2 separate regions of the Homo sapiens genome follow, and region 2 is linked to region 1. The links come from fine-mapping of genetic effects on gene expression. Tissue or cell type: spinal cord. Region 1 holds a variant in brackets; the other region holds the start of a gene. All regions are shown on one strand. Distances are between the middles of the regions.

Region 1 (8,106 bases):
TCTGCACACGTATCCTGTTTTTTTTTTTTAGAAGAAATAAAATTTATATATAATATAAATATATATATACTTATATACTTATATATTGCTAGGATAGGCACAGTGGCTCACGCCTATAATCCCAGCACTTTGAGAGGCCAAGATGGGTGGATCACTTGAGGTCAGGAGTTCGAGACCAGCCTGACCAACATGGTGAAACCCCATATCTACTGAAAAATACAAAAATTAGCTGGGTGTGGTGGTGCGCACCCAGATGGTGGGAGGCTTAAGTGGGAGGATTGTTTGAACCTGGGGGTGGAGGTTGCAGTGAGCTGTGATCATGCCACTGCACTCCAGCCTGGATGACAGAGTGAGAACCTCATCTCAAAAAAAAAAAAAAAAAAGTGTGGGTGTGTCTTGCTGTATTCAGTTTGCTAATTCTTTTTTTAAAGAGATGGAGTCTTGCCACGTTGCCCAGGCTGGGGTGCAGTGGCTATTTAAGGATATGCTCATGGCATACTACAGCCTCAAAATCCTGGGCTCAAACAGTCCTCCTGCCTCAGCTGCCCAAATAGCTGGGACTACATGCACGCCACTGTACCTGGCCCAGTTAGTTAATATTTGCTAAGGATTTTTGCATCCTGTGTTCACAAGGGATACTGGCCTGTAGTTTTCTTGTGATGTCTTTGGCTTTGGTATCAGATAATACTGGCCTTGTAGAATGAGTTGGAAAGTGTTCCTTCTGTTTTCTAAGAGAGTTTGAGAAGGACCAGTATTATTTCTTTTTTTTTTTTTTTTTTTTCAAGATGAAGTCTTGCTCTGTCACCCAGGCTGGAGTGCAGTGGCGTGATCTCAGCTCACTACAACCTCCACCTCCCGGGTTCAAGCAATTCTCCTGCCTCAGTCTCCCAAGTAGCTGGGATTACAGGCACCCACCACCACACCCGGCTAATTTTTGTATTTTTTGTAGAGACAGGGTTTCCCCTTGTTGGCCAGGCTGGTCTCGAACTCCTAACCTCGTGATCCGCCCTCCTTGGCCTCCCAAAGTGCTGGGATTACAGGCGTGAGCCACTGCACCTGGCTGTTATTTCTTCTTTAAATATTTGACAGAGCATTTACCAGTGAAGCTTTCTGGGACTGGGGCTTTACTTTGTGGGAATTTTTTTTTTTTTTTTAAGACTGAGTCTCACTTTCTTGCCCAGGCTGGATTGCAGTGGCATGATCTCGGCTCATCACAACCTCTGCCTCCCGGGTTTAAGCCATTCTCCCGCCTGAGCCTCCCAAGTAACTGGGATTACTGTTGTGCACCAACACACCTGGCTAATTTTTGTATTTTTAGCAGAGACGGGGATTCACCATGTTGGCCAGGCTGGTCTTGAACTCCTGACCTCAGGTGATTCCCCCACCTCAGCCTCCCAATGTGCTGGGATTACAGGTGTGAACCACCGTGCCTGGCCTGTGGGAGGATTTTTAGTGACTAATTTCTTTATTTGTTATAGGTCTATTTGGATTGTGTGTTTCTTCTCAAGTCAGTTTTGGTAAATTTGGGTCTTTCTAGGAATGTGTTCATTTTACCTAAGTCTAATTTCTTGGCATAAAGTTGCTCATAATATTTCTTTATAATCTTAATTTTGGTAGAGCCACTAGCAATGTCCCCTCTTTGATTCCTGATTTTGGAAATTTGTGTTGTTTCTCTTTTTCTTCTTGTCAATTTTATTGTTTTTTTCTTTTCTTTTCTTTTTTTTTTTTTTTTAGATGGAGTCTTACTCTGTCCCCAGGCTGGATGGAATACAGTGGTGCGATCTCGGCTCATTGCAACCTCCGCCTCCCGGGTTCAAGTGATTCTCCTGCCTTAGCCTCCCGAGTAGCTGGGATTACAGGCGCCCACCAACATGCCTAGCTAATTTTTCTATTTTTAGTAGAGACGGGGTTTCACCATGTTGGCCAGGATGGTCTCGATCTCTTGACCTCGTGATCCACCCACCTCGGCCTCCCAAAGTGCTGGGATTACAAGTGTGAGCCACTGGGCCCAGCCTGATTTTTTTCAAAGAGCTAACTTTAAGTTTCTATTGACTTTTCTCTGTTGTTTACTGTTTTCTCTTTCACTAGTTTCCACTCTGACCTTTATGTTTTCCCTTATTCTTCTTGCTTTGGGTTTAGTTTATTCTCCTCTTTTTTCTTCTCTGTTTTTTTGGGGTGGAAGTTTATTGATCCAGATCCAGACCTGTTGTCTATTTCTCCTTTTTATTCTGTCAATTTTTGCTTTCTGTATTTTGGGGCTCTGTTGTTAAACATGTATACATTTATAATTGTTATAGCTTCCTGACAAACTGATTCTTTTAGCATAATAAATGTTTATTTTTGTCTCTAATGACATTATATATATACATATAGATAGATATAGATATTGATATTGATATTAATGTAGCCACTCCAACCCTTATGGTTACTGTTTGCATAGTAGATGGTGTTTTTATACCTTTACCCACTTGTGTCTTTGAATCTAAAGTGTTTTTCTTAAAGACTTAAGACCCAGCCTCCACAAAATTAAAAAAATTAGCCAGGTATGGTGGTACACACCTGTAGTTCCAGCTACTCGGGAGGCTGAGGCAGGAGTAACAGGCATTTTGTTTGTTTTTTTAAAATTTTAATTATTATTTTTGAGACAGGGTCTCACTCTGTCACTCAGGCTAGAGTGCAGTGGTGTGATTTAGGCTCACTGCAGCCTCAGCCTCCAGGGCTTGGGTGATTGTCCCTCCTCAGCCTCCCGAGTAGCTGGGACTACAGGTGCATGCCACCATGCCTGGCTAATTTTTTGTATTTTAATTTTTTGCAGAGACGAGGTCTCCCTATGTTGCCCAGGCTGGTCTCAAACTCCTGGACTCAAGCAATCTGCCTGTCTCAGCCTCCCAAAGTGCTGGGATTACAGGCAAGAGCCACCACACCCAGCCTAGATTTTTTCACCTAATCTGACAGTCTATCTTTTGATTGGAGTGTTTAGTCCTTTCAAATTTAATGTAATTATTAATAAGGTTCATTTGTTTTTCCTTTACTGCTTGCTTTTGTGTTTTTTAGAGACAAGGTCTTACCCTATCCTGCAGGCTGGAGAGCAGTGATGCGATTACAGCTCACTGCAGCCTTGAACTCCTGGGCTCAAGAGATCCTCCTGAGTAGCTGGGACTACAGGTGTATGCCACCACGCCTGGCTATTTTTTTTTTTTTAATTTTTCTGGAGACTGGGTCTCACTTTGTTGCTCAGGCTGGTCTCAAACTTCTGGCTTCAAGAATGCTGGGGTTACAGATGTGTGCCACCACACCCAGCCCCAGTGTTGTTTTTAATATATATATATTTACATACATACATGTTAAATTGTGGCTAAGAAAACATAAAACTTACCATCTTAACCATGTTTAAGTGTACAATGCAATAGTGTTAAGTATATTTACATTGTCCTGCAACAGATTTCCAGAAATTCTTACCCCACAAAACTGAAACTTTATACCCATTTAACAATTCCCAGTTTACCCCTCACTCCGACCCCTGGCAACCACCATTCTTTCAGTTTCTATGAATTTGACTACTTTATTTTTTATTTATTTATTTTTTTGAGACAGAGTTTCTGTCACCAGACTGGAGTGCGGTGATGCGATCTCGGCTCACTGCAACCTCCACGTCCCGGGTTCAAGCGATTCTCCTGCCTCAGCTTCCCGAGTAGCTGGGATTACAGGCATGCACCACCATGCTCAGCTAACATTTGTATTTTTAGTAGAGATGGGGTTTCACCATGTTGGCCAGGCTGGTCTCAATCTCTTGACCACAAGTGATCCACCCACCTTGGCCTCCCAAAGTGCTGGGATTACAGGCATGAGCCACTGCACCCAGCAAAATTCGACTACTTTAAATACCTCATATAAGTGGAATCCTACAGTATTTGTCTTTTTGCAACTGGCTTATTCCACTTAACAGAATGTCCTCAAGGTTTATTCCTGTTCTAGCATGTGATTGGATTGCTTTCCTTTTTAAGGCCGTTGTAATATTCCATTGTAAGTATAGACCACATTTTGTTTATCAATTTATTCTTTGATGGACATTTGGGTGGCTTTCACCTCTTGGCTATTGTGAATAATGCTGCTGTGAACATGGGTGTGCAAATATATATTCAAGGCCCTGCTTTCAATTCTTTTGGATATCTGCCCAGAAGTGAGATTGCTTGATCATACGTAGTGCTTTTTTTTTTTTTTTTTTTTTTTTTTTTGAGACAGGGTCTCACTCTGTTGCCCAGGCTAGAGCGTAGTGGCTTGATCATAGCTCACTGCAACTTCAAACTCCTGGGCTTAAGCAGTCCTCCCACCTCAGCCTCCTATTTTTCATTTTCGTTTCGTTTTTGTTTTTTTTTGAGGCAGTCTCGCTGTGTTGCCCAGACTCAAGCAGTCCTCTCACCTCAGCTGCCCAAGTAGCTGGGACTACAGCCACGTGCCATCACCCAGCTAATTTTTTATTTTTTAATTTTTTATACAGATGAGGGTCTCA[C/T]TGTGTTGCCCAAGCTGGTCTCGAACTCCTGGGCACCTTAGCCTCTCAAAGTGTTGGGATTACAGGTGTGAGCCACCACACCCGGCCCTACTTTTAATTTTTTGAGGAACCATTTTTGCATAGCAGCTACACCATTTTCTATTCCTGCCAACAGTGCACAAGGGTTCTAATTTTTCCACATCGTCTGCAACATGTTATTTTCTGTTTGTTTTTTATAGCAGACGTCCTAATGGGTATGAAGTGTTGTGTCGTTGCGGTTTTAATATACATTTCCCCAACAATTAATGATGCTGAGCATGTTTTTATATGCTTCTTGACCATTCATAAATCATCTTTGAAAAAATGGGTTTAAGCCCTTTGCCTTTTGTTGTTGAGACAGGGTCTTGCTCTGTTGCCCAGGCTAGAGTGCGGTGGTGCGATCTCAGCTCACTGCAACCTCAACCTCCTGAGCCAGTGCTCCTCCTGCCTCAGCCTCTCAAGTAGCTGGAACTAGAGGCATGTGCCACCATGCCTGGCCAATTTTAAAAAAATTTTTTGTAGAGATAGTGTCTCACTGTATTGCCCAGCCTGGTCTCAAACTCCTGGACTCATGTGATCCTCCCACCTCAGCCTCCCAAAGTGCTGGGATTAGAGGTGTGAGCCACTGCTGCCAGCCTTACTATGCATTTTAAAGTTATTTTCAGCTGGGTGCGGTGGCTCATGCCTCTAATCCCAGCACTTTGGGAGGCCGAGGCAGGTGCATCACCTGAGGTCAGGAGTTTGAGAGCAGCCTGGCCAACATGGTGAGACCCTGTCTCTACCAAAAATACAAAAATTAGCCGGGCATGGTGGTGGGCGCCTATAATCCCAGCTACTCAGGAGGCTGAGGCAGGAGAACTGCTTGAACCCGGGACGCGGAGGTTGCAATGAGCCGAGATTGCATCATTGCACTCCAGTCTGGATGACAGAGCAAGACTCCATCTCTAAATAAATAAAGTTACTTTCTTAGTGGTTGTTCTAGAGGTTATATAACACTATACTTGAGATTAATATTACCTTAATACTGGCAACACATAGACTTGGTTTTCATGTTGTTTCATTTTTACCCCCTTCTTTGTGTGACTGTCATACATATTACGGTTCTATATGCTATAAACCCCAAAATACAGTGGTATACTTATTGTTTAATGCAACTTTATGTCTTTTAATGAAGTTAAAGAGAACACAGTTTTTTATATTTACCTAGGTACTGTTTACCTTTTCATTTCTTTGAGTAGATTTGAATTACTATCTGGAATTATTTCTTTTCAGCCTCAACTATTGCTTTTAGTATTTCTTATAAAGCTGGTCTGCTAACAATGAATTCTCTTTTTTTGTGGAGTGTCTTTATTTCACCTGTACTTGTTTTAAGGACAGTGTTGCTGGATATAGGATTCTTGTTTGACAGCATTTTTTTTCTTCTTGTGGCACTCTGACAATACTGCCCCACTGCCTCCTGGGGTCCATTGTTTCTGATTAGAAGGCAGCTGTGATTTATTTTGTTATTCTTCTGTAAGTGATAACTTGTTCTTCTCTAGCTTCCTTTAAGATTTTTCTTTGTCTTTCAACAGTTTGGCCATGAGGTATCTAGGTGTAAGTATCTTTGTTTATCCTACTTGGGGTTTATTGAGCTTCTTGGATCTGCAGATTCATGTTTTCCATCAAATTTGGGAATTTTTCGGCCACTATTTCTTCAGATAGTTTTTCCATTTCTCTCTCTTCTGGCACCCCCAGTACACATATGTTGGTAAACGCACTGTTGCTGCACAGGAGTCTGAGGGTCTATTCATTTTTCACTCTTTTTTCCTCTCTGTTCTTCACATTGGATAATTCTATTACTCTACGATTTCACATGCACTGATTCTTCTGTCTTCCCAAATCTGTGTAGTCCCTCTGGTCAACTTTTCAGAATTTCCTTTTCAAAAACTGGGATAAATATATGATTTACCATTTTAACAGTTTCTAAGTGTATAGTTCAGTGACATTAAGGACATTCACATTGTTGTGCAACCATCACCACCATCCACCTCCAGAACATTTCATCATCCCATACTGAAACTCTGTACTCATTCAACAACAATAACTCCCAGCTGCTACAGTGGCTCATGCCTATAATTCCAGTGCTTTGGGAGGCTGAAGAAGGAAGATCGCTTGAGCCCAGGAGTTCAAGATCAGCTTGGGCAACACAGTGAGGCCCTGTCTCTACAAAAAAAAAAAAAAAAAAAAAATTTTTTTTTAAATTAGCTGGGTATAGTGGCTTGCACCTGTAGTCCCAGCTATTCAGGAGGCTGAGGTGGGAGGACTGCTTGAGCCCAGGAGTTTGAGGCTGTAGTGAGCTATGATCATACCACTGTACTCCAGCCTGGGCAATAGAGCGAGACCCTGTCTCTAAAAACGAAAACAGTAATCCCCAAATTCCTCTCCCCACAACCCCTGGTAATCACTGTTTTATTTTCTGTCTCTGTGAATTTGATAATTTCAGATACCACATATAAGTGGAATCAAACAATATCTGTTTTTGTGTCTGGCTTATTTCACTTAGCATAATGTCTTCACAGTTCATCCATGTTGCAGCATGTTTCAGAATTTTATTCAGAATGTGCTTTTTTATGTTTTGTTTTGAGACAGGGTCTTGCTCTGTCACCCAGGTTGGAGTGCAGTGGCGTGATCATGGTTCACTGCAGCCTCTACCTGCCTGGGCTCAGGTCATCCTTCCACCTCAGCCTCCCAAGTTGCTGGGACGACAAGCGTGTGCCACCACACCTGGCTAGTTTTTTTTTTTTTTTGCATTTTTTGTAGAGATGGAGTTTTGTCATGTTGTCCAGGCTGGTCTTAAACTCTTGGACTCAAGCGAACCGCCCACCCTGGCCTCCCAAATTGCTGGGGATCATAGGTGTGAGCCACCATGCCTGGCCAATTCTTTTTTTTTTTTTTTTTTTTTAAATAAGGGCCCAAGGTTGTCCTACCTGACCCTTTAATTCTGTAAATGTGTGTGTGTGTATGTGTGTTTAAGTTTCTGCCCAGTTGTTTTTATTTGTTTGTTTTTTGAGACAGAATCTCATTCTGTCACCCAGGCTGGAGTGCAGTGGCACGATCTTGGCTCACTGCAACCTCTACCTCCCGGGTTCAAGCGATTCTCCTGCCTTAGCCTCCCAAGCAGCTGGGATTACAGGCGCACACCACCACACCCAGCTAATTTATTTTTAGTAGAGACGGTTTCACCATGTTGGCCAGGCTGGTCTCAAACTCCTGACCTCAAGTGATCCACCCGCCTCAGCCTCCCCAAGTGCAGGAATTGAGCCACCACACCGAGCCTCTGCTCAGTTTTTCTTTTTAAAACTTCTTATTTTTTAAGCCTAGCTTCATAGGGGCCACCCTTGTGCCTAATGGTCAGCCAATGCTTTAGGCAGATGTATCTTGAGCCAGCAAGGCATCTATCTTCTGCTGATAAGTTGGTGTGTGTGTGTGTGTGTATGCACGCGCGCGTGGGGGCTACATATTAAAACATTTCAGCAGTTTTGAAATCTGCCCTGGCTTTTACTTTCTACTGGGCCCTCTGGCATTTCCTCTTCATGTGC
Region 2 (8,106 bases), 130 kb before region 1:
GGCTTTCTAATTTGGTGGTTTGAAAGATAATGTAAAATGAATGTATAGTACAGCTAGAAATGAAATACTTTAATCCCTTTCACAGAACTGATATGAAATTGTTGTTTTATAGTATTTGTTACCTTTGAAGTTCCCCAGAAGGAAAACTATTTTGCCTGGCACAAGATACATATTAAGTTTCTCTGAAAGATGAACAAAAATAACTAATATCAAAATCAAATTTCAACTCAAAAGGTTCTAAAAGTAGCTCGATTCTTTCCAGTCCTTCATTAGACTTGGAAGAAATTTGAATATTTTATCTACTATGAAATATTCTTGTGGATGTGTGTGTGTTTCAGTATCAGATGCTATTAGAGTTCCAGGATTTCTTTTCCATATCACCTAGATTTCACTCTGGATTATTTATTTCCTTATTTAAAAAGTCAAAGGTTTGACATTAAATGGTATATAATTTCCAGTGCTGTTTTCAAATTTTGTTAAGACACAGCCAAGTTTATCTTTCCTGCAGAGAAGGCTTTAAAATAAGCAATATTTCACTGCATCCATATGATGGCTTATCTAATGGGGGAGGAGGCTATCCGGGAGGAATCTGGCAGTGTTCTTTCAGAAATAAAAATGTATGAAATACAGAGGAGACTTTTGAAACTCCCAGCCTCTGCATGCAGCACATTTCTTTATTTGCTTTATATGCAATCACTGGATCGGCTTGTTTTTACCTTTTTAGCATTTATACACATTAAATCCTAGCTAACTTATTCATTATAGCCTCTACTCCCTAGCCCCCTTTAAAGACATTCATTTAAATGAACTGCGCTCACTGGGAAGCTGCATTTTCCTATCAAGGCTGCTGAATTATTTAGCAGCTTTATTGTGCAATCGGGGTATTTGATAAGAAGCGTTTTCGAGTTGGGCACACGATGTGGATTCGATTCTTCTAACAACGTGGTTGTGGCGCAGTCTCTCCCCTCGTCGCGGGATTCAGAATCCTGGCGAAAACCCGAACAGGTGGCAACGCTCAGCAGTCAAATTTGGAGCCGAAGGCCCCAAGGAGGAGGCCTGGAAATGTCAGGGCCTGTTCTCCTTCCCATCAGTGCTGTGCCGCCCACCTCTGGCCCCGAGGTGCGGGGACGTGCGGCACCATACCTAGGCGGAGCTCCCGCAGGAGGCGCAGCAGGAGGGAAGCGCCACTGCAGTCCCCTCTCGCCTGGGAGGGCAGCCTGGTTTCTCCCTGTGGCCATCTTAAAGCCACCACCTCTGTGCCTCTCGCCACCTGCCTTCAGGGTTCCAGCAGCAGGGAGCCACCATCTGCTCTGGCGAGGGAGCTGAAGCTCACCCACCCAACTTCTCCGGGCTGGCTGCCGCTGGTAAGCTGCTCTAGGTGAGGCACTTGGGGAAGTATTACCTGTGGAGAGCCAGGATAGGCATTGCCAGGGCTGGCACCTGAGGGTGGACAGCATCTGAAGAGAGGCAAGTGGGAACTTGGTTTTCCCAAACTCTTGAAACTCCTTGTCAAGTGAGCAGACAGTTGTTTGGGACAATTGGAAAGTGTCACCCCTTGCCCATCCTCTGCTGTGCCTAATCGCCTGCCACTTTGCAGCCCTTGGAGGGCAGGGAGAGGGATTGTGGACTGGGCGCCCCTCCGCCTTCTCTGGAGAAGGCCATTCTGTTAGGGAACTGCTCACCCTTATTCTCCTCTCCCTGTTCCTCTCATCTGCTCTCATCTCTACATCAGTCAGAGGTTGAAACTCCTCGCCACAGTCCACTCTCCATCTCCATCCCTACCCCATCAATAAGCCCTTCCCCCACCATCTCAAGACACTGGAATGCAGGTAGGGAGAGGCCCCCAGAGGGAGTATTTGAGAATTTGCTCCCCTGTCCCTTGCCTCAACTACTCTCAGTTGCATCTTAATTCCTAGAATTACTTCCTCTTCCCTCCACTCCTGGAGTCCTCTTTCTACCTTCAGTATAAGGTCAGGCAAACATTTTGGGGGGCCCTGGGATGTGTGTGACAGTAGAACGGTCTTGATTCCTTGCTAAAATGGCTTCCCAAGTCAGTAGGGACCAGGACAGAGAAGGGAGAGTAAGTAAACAGGTCTATGGCATTTTCTGCTGAGTGTTTGCCCAGCACAGCCCCCAAATTGACCAGCAGTGTCCTGTTTGCATGACAGCTTAGAGGTGGTCTCTGCAGTGACTCACCTCCCTTTCTCTTTTCTTCCTTCTCTTTACCTCAAAGGCCAGGTTTCTAAGCATTGTAAGTACCCAACATAGCAAGGGGATAGGATTGCAGGAGGTAGTTTCTTAAATGTGGGGTGGGAGAAACATTTTTGTCCTTTGAAGCCCCATGGCACCTTGTCAAGGAGCAAGGAACACACTTTTGCTTGGGAGGCCCGGACACAGGCACAAGACTGCAATTATAGAGGATAAACGAAAAACTGTTCTCTTAGGCTAAGCTCTCTTATGGATGGTAAAAAGCCGTTTTCTTCTCCTGAGTGCCCTGCCTAGCCTGGCATTCTTTTCCTTCCATGTCTGAGGGGGTTTACCCTCAGACAGGTTCTCCTTCCCCTCTGCAGCCCTGGTTGTCTTCATTCTTCAAGGGCCACTTTACAGGGACATGGAACAGGCTCCACTAAAGTGGTGTCCTCTTATTGCTCTTGGCCCTGAGGACATATGAAGATTGTGAAAGTCAGAGATCCTCTCTTCCCTTGGTTTTCATGGGAGACAGTAGAGAGCTGAGGGTTCCCCAGTTGTTCAGCTGTGGGATCCAACTGGCCCGGGCTGTACCCAAGGGGCACTGCCACAGTGCACCACTAACATCTCTTTTCTGGATCCTTTTGAGGCAGATTCTGTTTAGAGGGGTCTAGGTCTCTACAGGCAACCTCCAACAGATACCATAAGAATAGACCACTTTGTAGTCACACTTATCATCCCTTATTGCAGTTTCTGTTTACATGTTTGTCTACCCTCCTAGGCTGATTACCGTGGGGGGGAGAATCCAACTTACTTATCTTGTATCTTATCTAGCAGTGCCTGCCACATAGTGGGCAGTCAGGGAATGCTTGATGAAGGAAAGAGGATGTAAAGCGATTGTGTCTTTCCGTGTGCGGGGTGCAATTACATTTATACTATTAAGTCTTTATATTTTGAGTCTGTCCCTCTAACGGTAGACCTGTATTTTTCTGCATTTGTGCACCTGCTTAAGCTGCCTGAGCATGCCCTCATCTCTGAACAGCAAAGATAATCAATACCGAGGGGTATGCAGTGGAGTAATCCACACCCCACCCCCTTTCCCTTGCTCAGGCAAGGGTACTTAGAGACGCTACTGAAACTATCTTTAGCCACAGCGATTCCTAAGTATTCCCATTAAGAAAGACGCCAGCAGTCCGCCACACACTTACACGTGCATATCCCTGACATAGGATTCCCAAATCCTGGCCGCTGAAGGGCGGGAGGCGTGTGCCCGGCCTCAGACTACTATAAATTGCGAAATGACAAACCTGCTTTGGGTCCCAGTCTCTGCGTGCCCGAGTGCGCACCCGCGATTCGAGCAGCTTAAGCCCTACTCCCTCCTCCTTCCCAAATCAGCCACCGTGGGCCACGGCTACGCTATGCTTTATTCCTAAGCGAATCTCGCACAAATCTCGAGGCATATTTTGTACAAGGGGACACTGGCCGCGCGCATCGCAATCGCATCTCAGCGACAGAAGCGGTCACGTGCCTTGGCGCGCTTCCGCACCGCCCCTTCCCGCGCACTCGCACGCGCACGCGCACACGCGCCCATACGGCTCCAATCCCTTCAACCTTCTGCGCGCTTCCGCCTTCATGCTAGCAACGCCCGCAGTGACGCGCAGGCCCCGCCCCCTCCCGCGCGCCTCCCGGAAGTGGCCGGTCCAGAGCTGTGGGGTGGCCTCCGCGCGGTCTCTGGCGGAGTCGGGGAATCGGATCAAGGCGAGAGGATCCGGCAGGGAAGGAGCTTCGGGGCCGGGGGTTGGGCCGCACATTTACGTGCGCGAAGCGGAGTGGACCGGGAGCTGGTGACGATGGCGGGGCCGCAGCCCCTGGCGCTGCAACTGGAACAGTTGTTGAACCCGCGACCAAGCGAGGCGGACCCTGAAGCGGACCCCGAGGAAGGTGAGGCCGGACTGGGGCAGGCCACGTGCGGAGCGGTGGGCCAGGCCCTGTGGGGCAAGGGGGCGGCGTGGGAGGGGCGTGCGCGAGGCCGCCGGGCCTGCGCTCCTTCGCTTGGCGCAGAGGAACGTCGCCTCCCGCGAGGGTGGTCCCGGCCTCGGGAGGAGGGCTTCGGCTTCTTTTCACACGCACTCGAAACTTGGTGCTCGGCTGGATGGGCGGAACAGATCGAGGGCTCAGGCCGAGAGGAGCTGGTCTTCAGGTTTACTTGCTCCAGGCCTGTTGGAGGGAGCCAGAGAGTCTGCTAGCAAGTTGGAAGTTAGCTTTGAGGATGCCCTTTCTGGTATTGCGTTAGAAAGGAGGAGAAGAAAGTCGCATGTTTTTAATTCAGGTTGCCCTTCAAAACTAAGTTGGAGACTGATGGAAGGATTTTCTGGTGCTGTTTAAGTCTCTTGAAGTCTCAAGACACTTGTTCAGTGGCTGACGACTGAGACTCCTGTTCTGTAAGCTGATGTTCAGAGTCTAGCTGGGAGTAATCCCGCTTTAGACTTGAGTCGGAAGTGTGAGAAAGGGATAATAAGGAGGGATAAATGCGAGTGCTGAACCGTATCTTAGGAAGATCAGTTGAAGAAACTCGGGACTGTTTAGCCAGAATAAGCAAAGAAAACTCCCCAAAGAATGGGACAGAGTGAGGGGAGAACGTGATGACTGATTTAAGATATTGGAGCGACTGTCACACATTGAAGAGGAATTCAACTAGTTTGATAGGATCCAAGTCATAGAAATAGATCCCACTAGTAGATGCCAGGAGTCAACTTTCTGTTTAGAAACAGCAGTAAGACAGTGTTCTACTTTGGGAGAGAGTGAATTTCCTATTCCTGGAAGTTGGTGGGGATTTCGTAAAGGACGTTCAACTATGAGATAAATGGGTCGACCAGGGTTCCCGTTAAAGTTTCTGCTAACCTGGAGATTCTGTTTACTTTTCCCTCTCCCCCGACAGCCACTGCTGCCAGGGTGATTGACAGGTTTGATGAAGGGGAAGATGGGGAAGGTGATTTCCTAGTAGTGGGTAGCATTAGAAAACTGGCATCAGCCTCCCTCTTGGACACGGACAAAAGGTATTGCGGCAAAACCACCTCTAGAAAAGCATGGAATGAAGACCATTGGGAGCAGACTCTGCCAGGATCGTCTGGTGAGTAGACATTTTTGAATGGAACTCTTCTCTTCCCTAATTTTTTCAGGGTTAAAATCCTCCGGTCATCCCCCATGATCTTTGCAAGAGTAGTCTGCGGATCTTTTTTTTGAGACAGAGTTTGGCTCTTGTTGCCCAGGCTGGAGTGTGATGGCGCCATCTCGGCTCACCGCAACCTCCACCTCTGGAGTTCAAGCGAGGCTCCTGCCTCAGCCTCCCGAGTAGCTGGGATTACAGGCATGCACCACCACGCCCGGCTAATTTTGTATTTTTAGTAGAGACGGGGTTTGTCCATGTTGGTCAGGCACCCCTATCTGTTATCTTAGGAGAGACCATTGATTTGGTATTAGAAAGGGTCTTAGAGGTTACTTCATTTCACTTCATAAGGAATCTAAAGCCCAGAGTGATTAAGTTGCTATACTCCTTATGTTCGGACTAATGGCTCACCCTACAGTGGAGTGACAGAGAAGGCAGTGCATTTTGGCTACTGGAGAGGGTTATGAGCTGAAAAACCACTGTGTCTGATGAACATGTTATCCTTGAATTGTGACCCCTGACCTTTGGTTTTCCAGGACTTGCATTGAAGCACTGTGTGATATTAGTTATTTGTGAAACTCATTTTTTGCCATTCTAAAAAATCACATAATCCTTCTCTTCCCTGCAAAAGAGTTAGGAGTCTGTGCGCTTATAGTTTTAAAGAATTGTAAATTTCTCAGAGTGGAAGAAGGGGCTAGATATGGTGATTATTGGGAGAATGTCATTTGTTTTCCTTTAGAAAGGTCAGGGGTGTCATGTTGAGAATCCACAGATAATATAAAAGGAACTATCATTTAGGTTATGATATCTATGATTTAGTCCTTGATGTAGTTCTGGGAGCTCCTGATAAGCTCATTTCATATTCTTTGCCTAGAGACTGATAAAGGGACCAATCATGAGACAAATATGATAATATTTATTGAGTTCTTACCATGCGTCAGGCACTGAGTTTAGCTCTATAATTTAAGTTCTAAGAGCCTGGGACACAGTAAGTCCTCAAAAAAAAAATTATAAAATTACCTGGAATTAGACAGATTTTTATAAAAAATTATCACCATTATCACTACATGTGTCACCTAATTTAATCCTCCCAATTGCGCAGGAAGTTATTACTACTTAGCCCCATTTTACAGATAAGGAAATCGAGGGGCAAATTGGTTACATAAGTTTGCTCAAGGTCATATAGTTAGTAAGTGGAAGAAACATGATTCAAATGTAGGCTGTCTGACTCCAAGATGTACACTCTAGTAAACTCTGTATGAATGTTTCTTAATCTGAGAAATGGCGTACATTCAAAGAATTTAAATAATAATTTCTGTTTACTGTTTTGGCACTTAGTTTTTGTATTTATATTTTTGGCAGCTTTGTGTCTTAAGTTTATATATACCTTTTTAAAGAAGCGCTGAAGACCTGTCACGCTTTCCTAAAATCTTTATTTTATTGAAGAAAGTTTTTGGAAACTGGTCCCTCTATCTTAGAATCATACTTGAAACACATGGGGCTTTTATGTTCTACCATGGAACAGATTGGATAAACTGTAAAAACCTCTACATATCAGATGATACTCTAAGCATAAGTCAAACAAAGAGCCTTAACTAGCACTCTGTCTACTATAGGATCAAGTTCAGAGTCCTCATGAAAGACGAGACCTTTCCTGATTAGTCTCATCTCCCATCACTTCCTTGTGCATCCTGCACTCCAGTGCGTTTTCCCTTCATTATCTATGAGCTGTTGCCTTATGCTTCATAAGTAAAATTATAATGTCTCCTTCTCCACATGATACCATCCCCCACCTTTCCAGGAGAGTTAGGTGGTTCCATCTCCATACACTGTGTACTAATGACCTTGTAATATAATTATTGGCATGCATATCTACCACTCCCACCAGACCATGAACTCCTCCCAGCAAGTATTAAATTCTATTTGCCTTTCCTTAGCCCCTGGCTCATAATGAGTGCTTAATAAGTATTTAGTAAATAGGGCAGACGGATGTGATAGATTGTACATTTTTTCAGATCAGGTTTGGGAAAACTGGTAATTCTCTAACACCAGTTGAAATCTTACTGTTCTTCAAGGGCCAGAGCAAATGCTAGCTCTTCCTTAGAGATTAGCTTAAATTCACTTGCCCCACAGTTAAAATTTCTCACTCTTCTGGGTTATTGAAATTTTGTCAAAGCACTTCTGATGCTTCCTTGAGTTGTAATGTTGTGAGTCTGTCTTTCCCACTAGCTCCTTTTGTTAGGGTAGGACCCGTGTTCTATTCATCTTTGCTTCTCCCTTAGCATTTTGGAGATTGTAGATGTGTAATAAATATATTGTTGAATTGAGTGCAGTAAGAGATTTTCCCCCTGATGCCACAGTGCTTAAGTTGAAATGAAGTCTATGGCTTGGTATTTTCTCCAGGTAATACCCATTTTTCTCTTTCTTCCCTCTCTTCTTTGTAGATGAGGAAATATCTGATGAGGAAGGGTCTGGAGATGAAGATTCAGAGGGACTGGGTCTGGAGGAATATGATGAGGACGACCTGGGTGCTGCTGAGGAACAGGAGTGTGGTGATCACAGGGAGAGCAAGAAGAGCAGAAGCCACTCTGCAAAAACACCGGGCTTCAGTGTCCAGAGTATCAGTGACTTTGAGAAATTTACCAAGGGAATGGATGACCTTGGGAGCAGTGAGGAGGAGGAAGACGAAGAGAGTGGCATGGAAGAAGGGGATGACGCGGAAGACTCCCAAGGCGAGAGTGAGGAAGACAGGG

What was found. PIP is the estimated chance that this variant, and not a neighbour inherited with it, causes the effect.
Region 2: it holds the start of AATF, and the variant in region 1 is fine-mapped to the expression of AATF in spinal cord (GTEx, PIP above 0.99). The same link has a PIP of 0.9 or more in amygdala, hippocampus and substantia nigra.

Annotation. Positions count from the first base shown.
Region 1 is chr17:37,073,341-37,081,446 of GRCh38, forward strand. No RefSeq gene overlaps it. Among named protein-coding and RNA genes, the nearest start is that of MIR2909, 44 kb to the left of the region's middle. The variant C/T (reference allele first, on the strand shown) is at 4,511.
Region 2 is chr17:36,945,089-36,953,194 of GRCh38, forward strand. It overlaps AATF (apoptosis antagonizing transcription factor), which reads left to right and starts at 3,866. Exons shown (of 12, transcript NM_012138.4): 1 at 3,866-4,128; 2 at 5,126-5,317; 3 at 7,798-8,106. The coding sequence starts at 4,038.